Linked DNA regions of Homo sapiens: region 2 is linked to region 1. Evidence: fine-mapped expression QTL. A gene starts in region 1. The other region holds a variant in brackets. All regions are shown on one strand. Distances are from middle to middle.

Region 1 (2,895 bases):
GCAGGCCTGCCCTATCAAGGGCTGTGAGCGCCACACCAAGGCACACAAGAGCGTCCGCCAAGCTGAGGAATAAACTCCTGCTTCTCTGTGGGGCTCTGTATTCCCATGTGGAGGAGGATGGGGCTGTAATCACCTAAAACTGACATAGGCCAGTTCAAAAGTGGCCCTAGAACCAGAGCAGGTCCCAGGTTCCTCCTGGGAACCGCCCCGGGCTCAGATGGGGGTGTCACCTACCTGTGCCGACAGCCAGCTTTGTGTCCCAGATGGACTCGGGCATCGAAGAGGCTTCTCACGGAAAACAGTTCCTTGACATTGAAGAAGTCAGAGTGCTTGAGGGGCTCATTCAAAATCTTGTCGTTGAAATCTACGGCAGGGAGGAGGAGCGACGCTGCGTCTCCCACCGGTGGCAGCAGAGACAGGCAGAGCGCAGTTCCCGCCCACCCCTGCTCCCAAGTGCCTTCTGTGACACCGAGGTGGGGAGCCGGGAGCCCAGCAGCCCCAGGAAAGACCTGGAAGCACAGGGACCTTTTCAGGAAACAGAGGGCTGGAGCCAGGTTCTGATCCCGACCTTGCTCCTGGGTAAGCCTGGTCGAACCTGGTCAACCCCGTCCCTTGGTCTTACTTGGAAGACAGAGGAGAAAAAGAGAGGGGCCCAGCGGGTTGCTCAGGTCTTTCTGGCACCTCCCCGCCTTGTGGTCTCAGGTGGCCAGCCAGAAAGTCCCCATCAGGAGTCCAGCAAGGTGGGCAGACTCCAAGCCCAGTGCCCCCAGGTCACTTGGGCCCGCCTGGGCGAGCTCGGGGCTCCGGGCCTCGGTGGTCCAGTGACACCCCCCTAGGGAGCGAAGCCTGTGCTAACCACTGGCCCGCCCGCTCCCTCTCACCCTATCCATGGTGAGGCGGTGGCCTCAGCCCGCTGTGCTACGTCAGGCAGGACCGAGCGGCGGCGAGCACGGGAGTGGGAGGAGCCCAGCGGAGCGCGCAGTTTCGACCGCGTGCAGCGCCCAGGCCCCTCTAGGGTTCGCATCCCCCGCGGCTGCCGGCCTCTCCTCGTTCCCACCCAACTCGGCTGGGCGCCCAGTGTTACCGGTGCTGTCCTCCGACTCGCGGATCATAAGGGCCGTCGCGCTTCCAAGCGTCCTGCGGCTCGGCCGAGCAGGCCGGGGGGTCGCCTTCCCGAGAAAGCCCAACCAGCGCGACGGGGCCCGGGCACCTGGGGGGAAGTAGATAGAGGTCCTGGCGCCGAGTCCCGAATGCACCACGCCCGCTCCCCACCGCATCCCCAACGGGCCCCTCCGCGTCCCTAACGGGTCCCCTCCGCGTCCCCGCGCCCTCCCCGAGTCCCCTCCGCGCTCGCCCCGGGTCCCCTCCACGTCCCCGCCGCTCCATCGGGTCCCCGCGCCCCTCCGCATCCTCCTCGCATGCTCCTCCCCAGGGTCCCGCAAGCGCGCGCTCACCCGCGCCGAGTATTCGGGGCAGCGCGGCCGAGGATGTCGCCATGGCTGGGACGCGGGGCAGAGCGAGGTCTCCCTCCAGGCCAGGCCGAGCGGCCTCCCCTTCCGTCGCCATCCGCGCGGGGCCGCAGTGCCGCCTACAGGCCCGGAGGAGCCACAGCGCTGTCCCCAGGCGGCTGGGACCTCCCTGCGGGGGCGGGGCACGCGAGGGGTCAGGGCCCGGGGTCCTGGGCTTGAGAGTCTCGGGCGGGGAGTGGAGCCACGGTCCTCGCCCTGCAGCTCGCCCCGCCCTGCTAATGGGACCGGCCAGCCCGGGAGGCCCCTGACCCTTGGGGAAGCCCGCTGGGCGATGGGGACCCTCGCCTCCCGCCAAGTGAGCTGTGAACCACGTCCTGCGCAACCTCTCGCTCTCCAAAACTGTTTGTAATATTTAAACGATATTTGGCTTAGGAGAATTTCATAAAGTTAGCCAGATCTCGGGTCTCAATTTAGACTCGGGGTGCTGGGGGGCATAGCATCCCTGGAGTACATTGGACAGCAAAAGTCCAATCGTTGCCTGCCGAGTGGACCTGCAGTGCTTAAACCCCGTCACCCGGCTGGCGGGGTCCCAGGCCCTGGGGTTTCTTTCGCCCGGGAGTCCACGCCCTGATGCTGGGGTGGCCCGGTCCCCCCGCGGGTGGCTGGGGGCCTGGGGCTGCCTCACACGACGGTCCCAGCAGGGAATCTCTCGCCGTCCCGACCTTCCCGGCCCTTGGGGAGTCGCCCGGCAGGTTCCGGACCCACCCGCAGAGGAACCCGGCCCACGCGCGGCGCCTTTAAGGCCCCTCCGCTCGCTCCCCAGTCACGTGACCTGGCCGTCGCTTGGCAACAGGACGCCGCCGAGTCCCGCTTCTCCTCCAGGCACAATGGCTGAGGAATGCCCCAGAGCGTGCGCGGAGCCTGTGGCGCCCAAGGCCACGGCCCCGCCGGAGAGGACCAGCGACTACTACCGCGTGAGCGCGGACCTGCCGGGCAGGTTCAACAACCCGGGGTGGTTCCGGGGCTACAGGTGAGGAAGCTGGGGCCCGCCTGGTCCTGGCGTCCACTGCTCGATAGCCCCGTGTGTGAGAGACCCCGCAAGACCCCCAAGGTCCTAGCTACAGAAATCAAGAAGATCGAGTGGTCATCCGGGGCCCGCGCTGTCATCGCCCGCCAGTGAGCGGCGACCGTGCTCCCTAGAGCCTCATACAAGGAAGTGGGGATAAGGGCAGTGGGGGGCAGGGCCGTGGGGGGAGAAAGCCCAGTTGTGGTCTCAGCTCCACTGATTTGTGTCGGGTGAGTCTCCTCTCCTCTCTACCCTGAAACTCCGCTGCGGGGCGTGAGCACAGCAGCACCTCCACTGTCTTGCTGTAGACTCAGCCAGCTCTGAGCTGCCACAGGGCATTGCAGGCTAAGAAGTAGTAAG
Region 2 (2,895 bases), 740 kb after region 1:
GCATGTGGGGGTGTGTCAGGGTGTATGCGTGTGTGTGCATGTGTAGGTGGTGTTCGTGTATGTGTGGGGTGTGTGTGCATGTGTGGTGTGTGTGCATGTGTGTATGGGTGTGTGGGTGTGTGTGTGCATGTATGAGTGTGGGGGGTGTGCATGTGTGGTGTGTGTGTGTGCATGAGTGTATGAGTGTGGGGGTGTGTGGGTGTGTGTGTGTGCATGTGTGGTGTGTGTGCATGTGTCTGAGTGTGGGGGTGTGTGGGTGTGTATGTGCGTGTGTGTGTGGGTGTATGAGTGTGGGGGTGTGTGGGTGTGTATGCGTGTGTGCATGTGTGGTGTGTGTGCATGTGTGTATGAATGTGGGGGTGTGTGGGTGTGTATGCATGTGTGTGCATGTGTGGTGTGTGTGCATGTGTGTATGAGTGTGGGGGTGTGGGGGTGTGTATGCATGTGTGGTGTGTGTGTATGTGTGGGGGTGTGTGGGGGTGTGTGTGCATGTGTGGTGTGTGCATGTGTGTATGTGTGGGGGGTGTGGGGGTGTGTGCGTGTGTGCATGTGTGTATCAGTGTGGGGTGTGTGGGTGTGTATGCGTGTGTGTGCATGTGGTGTGTGCATGTGTGTATGAGTGTGGGGGTGTGGGGGTGTATGTGTGTGTGCATGTATGTGTGTGCATGTGTGGTGTCTGCACATGTGAGTGTGGGGGTGTGTGGGCGTGTATGAGTGTGGGGGTGTGTGGGCGTGTATGCGTGTGTGCATGTATGAGTGTGGGGGTGTGTGGGTGTGTATGTGCGTGTGTGCGTGGGTGTGTGTGCATGTGTGTATGAGTGTGGGGTGTGTGGGTGTGCATGTGTGTGCATGTGTGCATGAGTGTGGGGGTGTGGGGGTATGTATGCGTGTGTGTGCATGTATGAGTGTGGGGGTGCATGGGTGTGTGTGTGCCTGTGTGGTGTGTGTGCATGTGTGAGTGTGGGGGTGTGGGGGTGTGCGTGAGTGGGGGGGTGTGGGTGTGTATGCGTGTGTGCATGTGTGGTGTGTGTGCATGTGTGTATGAGTGTGGGGGTGCGTGGGTGTGTGTGCATGTGTGGTGTGTGTGTATGAGTGTGGGGGTGGGGGGGTGTGTGCATGTGTGCATATGTGTATGAGTGTGGGGGTGTGGGGGTGTGCATGCGTATGTGTGCATGTGTGTATGAATATGGGTGTATGTGTGCATATGTGTGTGGGGGTGTGGGGGTGTATGCATGTGTGGGGGTGTGTGGTGTGTGCATGTGTGTATGAGTGTGTGTGCGCATGTGTGGTGTATGTGGTGT[GTGTA/A]TGTGTGTGTGCATGTGTGTATGAGTGTGGGTGTGTGTGGGTGTGTGTGCGTGCATGTATGAGTGTGTGGGTGTGGGTGTGTGCATGTGTGTATGAGTGTGGGTGTGTGTGGGTGTGTATGCGTATGTGTGCATGTGTGGTGTGTGTGCATCTGTGTATGAATGTGGGTGTGTGTGTGTGCTTGTGTGCATGTGTGTATGAGTGTGGGGGTGTGTGGGTGTGTATGCGTGTGTGTGCATGTGTGTATGAGTGTGTGCGCGCACACATGTGTGGTGTATGTGGTGTATGTGTGGGTGTGTGTGTGCATGGGGGGTGTGCACTCACATACTCATGTGCCTGTATGTCCTCAGTGTGCTAAAATATAAAGGAGCCATCAGAGAAATCTGCTTCACAGAAAGCAGGTCAGAGAAGGAACACCCCACAAGCTGTGAAGAGCCCTCATGTCAGGCCCCCAAATGGGCTGAGAAAGCAGGGCAGGCGGCCAGGACGAGCCTTCCCCACCACACCTCCTCAACAGGGCAGGAGATTGTAGGCTTTCTATCACGTTGTTATTGAAAGAAGACCACAGTCTATTGAGACAGATTCAAGATTCGAGGGGCTTGGCTGTTGCCGTTTATCCAAAGCTGCCGCATCTGTGTTCTCCAACAACCACATAGAAACGGCGCAGCCAGGAAGACCCCCAGGTCACCGCACTAGCTCGGGACTCACGGGACACACTTTCAAATTCATCCACGCCCATTAACAGGGAACAGGGGGACACCTGGCATGTTTTCGTGACCTGGTCTCCACATGGCCACTTGAGATTGTCCCCACCCCCTTGGGACCACCACTTTAATATTGCAAAGTGTCCTTGGCCGCCCCTGAAATGGCAGCTGCTTGGATTTCCTGAAATGTTAAAGGACTCCATTAAACAGATCTCTAAAAGGAAGGGCTCCTTCCCTGCCCCCTTCACGCGCCTCAGGTGGGTAGGCCCATCTGGCTCACTTGTCACAAACTGTAGATAAGAGCTCCAATTCCTTTGGGCTGGCCACCCATCAACAAAGACATCATCTTGGGGCTCACTGCCATTGCTGACTCCCGTGAGGTTTGTATACTGACTGTTGGAATGGCGGAGACCTGACCCCACAGGAAATCTGAGGCTGCCTGGAAGGAGAAGGGCCTCCCGAGAGACACCTCTGCTGCCCATCGTCATGCCTGTGTCTCACAGAGGAAATACTCACCCTGTGGCCCTTCTCGCCTGGCAACCCAGCCAGGCCGTCGAAACCCCGGTCACCCTGCAAAAAGGACAGAAAGGCTGCCTCAGACGCCACCCTGCACACGTGGACACCCCGCCTTGGTGTCCACCAAGTGATGGCCGCCCCGCCTTGGACCACGTTTCACACAGCATCTATGCACCCTGAACCCCATCGGCCAGCCCTCTCCCCATAGGCCCCCACTTTGCATCTACAATCTCAGCCTCTTCCCCTGCAAACATGAACATGGGCTGCAAAGGGGGAGATGACTTTCATCCCCAAGTCCCAGGCCCCGACGGGTCCTTAGTCATGCGGTATTTCAGCGACCGCTGCAGTTTCCCGTGTGTGTGAGTGTCTG

Alleles and levels. Alleles are on the strand shown, and positions count from the first base shown. SD is a standard deviation of normalised expression in the study named.
For the expression in whole blood of the gene that starts at base 1,526 in region 1, allele A in region 2 goes with a higher level than allele GTGTA (large effect, 1.2 SD a copy in TwinsUK).

Evidence for each region. PIP is the estimated chance that this variant, and not a neighbour inherited with it, causes the effect.
Region 2: its variant is the best candidate, but not a certain one, in a credible set for the expression of MRPS2 in whole blood (TwinsUK, PIP 0.76).

The regions. Positions count from the first base shown.
Region 1 is chr9:135,499,313-135,502,207 of GRCh38, reverse strand. MRPS2 (mitochondrial ribosomal protein S2) reads right to left here and starts at 1,526. Exons shown (of 4, transcript NM_016034.5): 1 at 1,455-1,526; 2 at 1,085-1,210; 3 at 235-364. The coding sequence starts at 1,497. PIERCE1 (piercer of microtubule wall 1) reads left to right here and starts at 2,339. Exons shown (of 3, transcript NM_001048265.2): 1 at 2,339-2,499. The coding sequence starts at 2,357. RefSeq lists an enhancer at 677-1,301 and silencers at 1,257-1,416, 1,627-1,796, 2,067-2,236.
Region 2 is chr9:134,757,927-134,760,821 of GRCh38, reverse strand. COL5A1 (collagen type V alpha 1 chain) reads right to left here. Exons shown (of 66, transcript NM_000093.5): 18 at 2,526-2,579. Among named protein-coding and RNA genes, the nearest start is that of MIR3689C, 90 kb to the left of the region's middle. The variant GTGTA/A (reference allele first, on the strand shown) is at 1,302.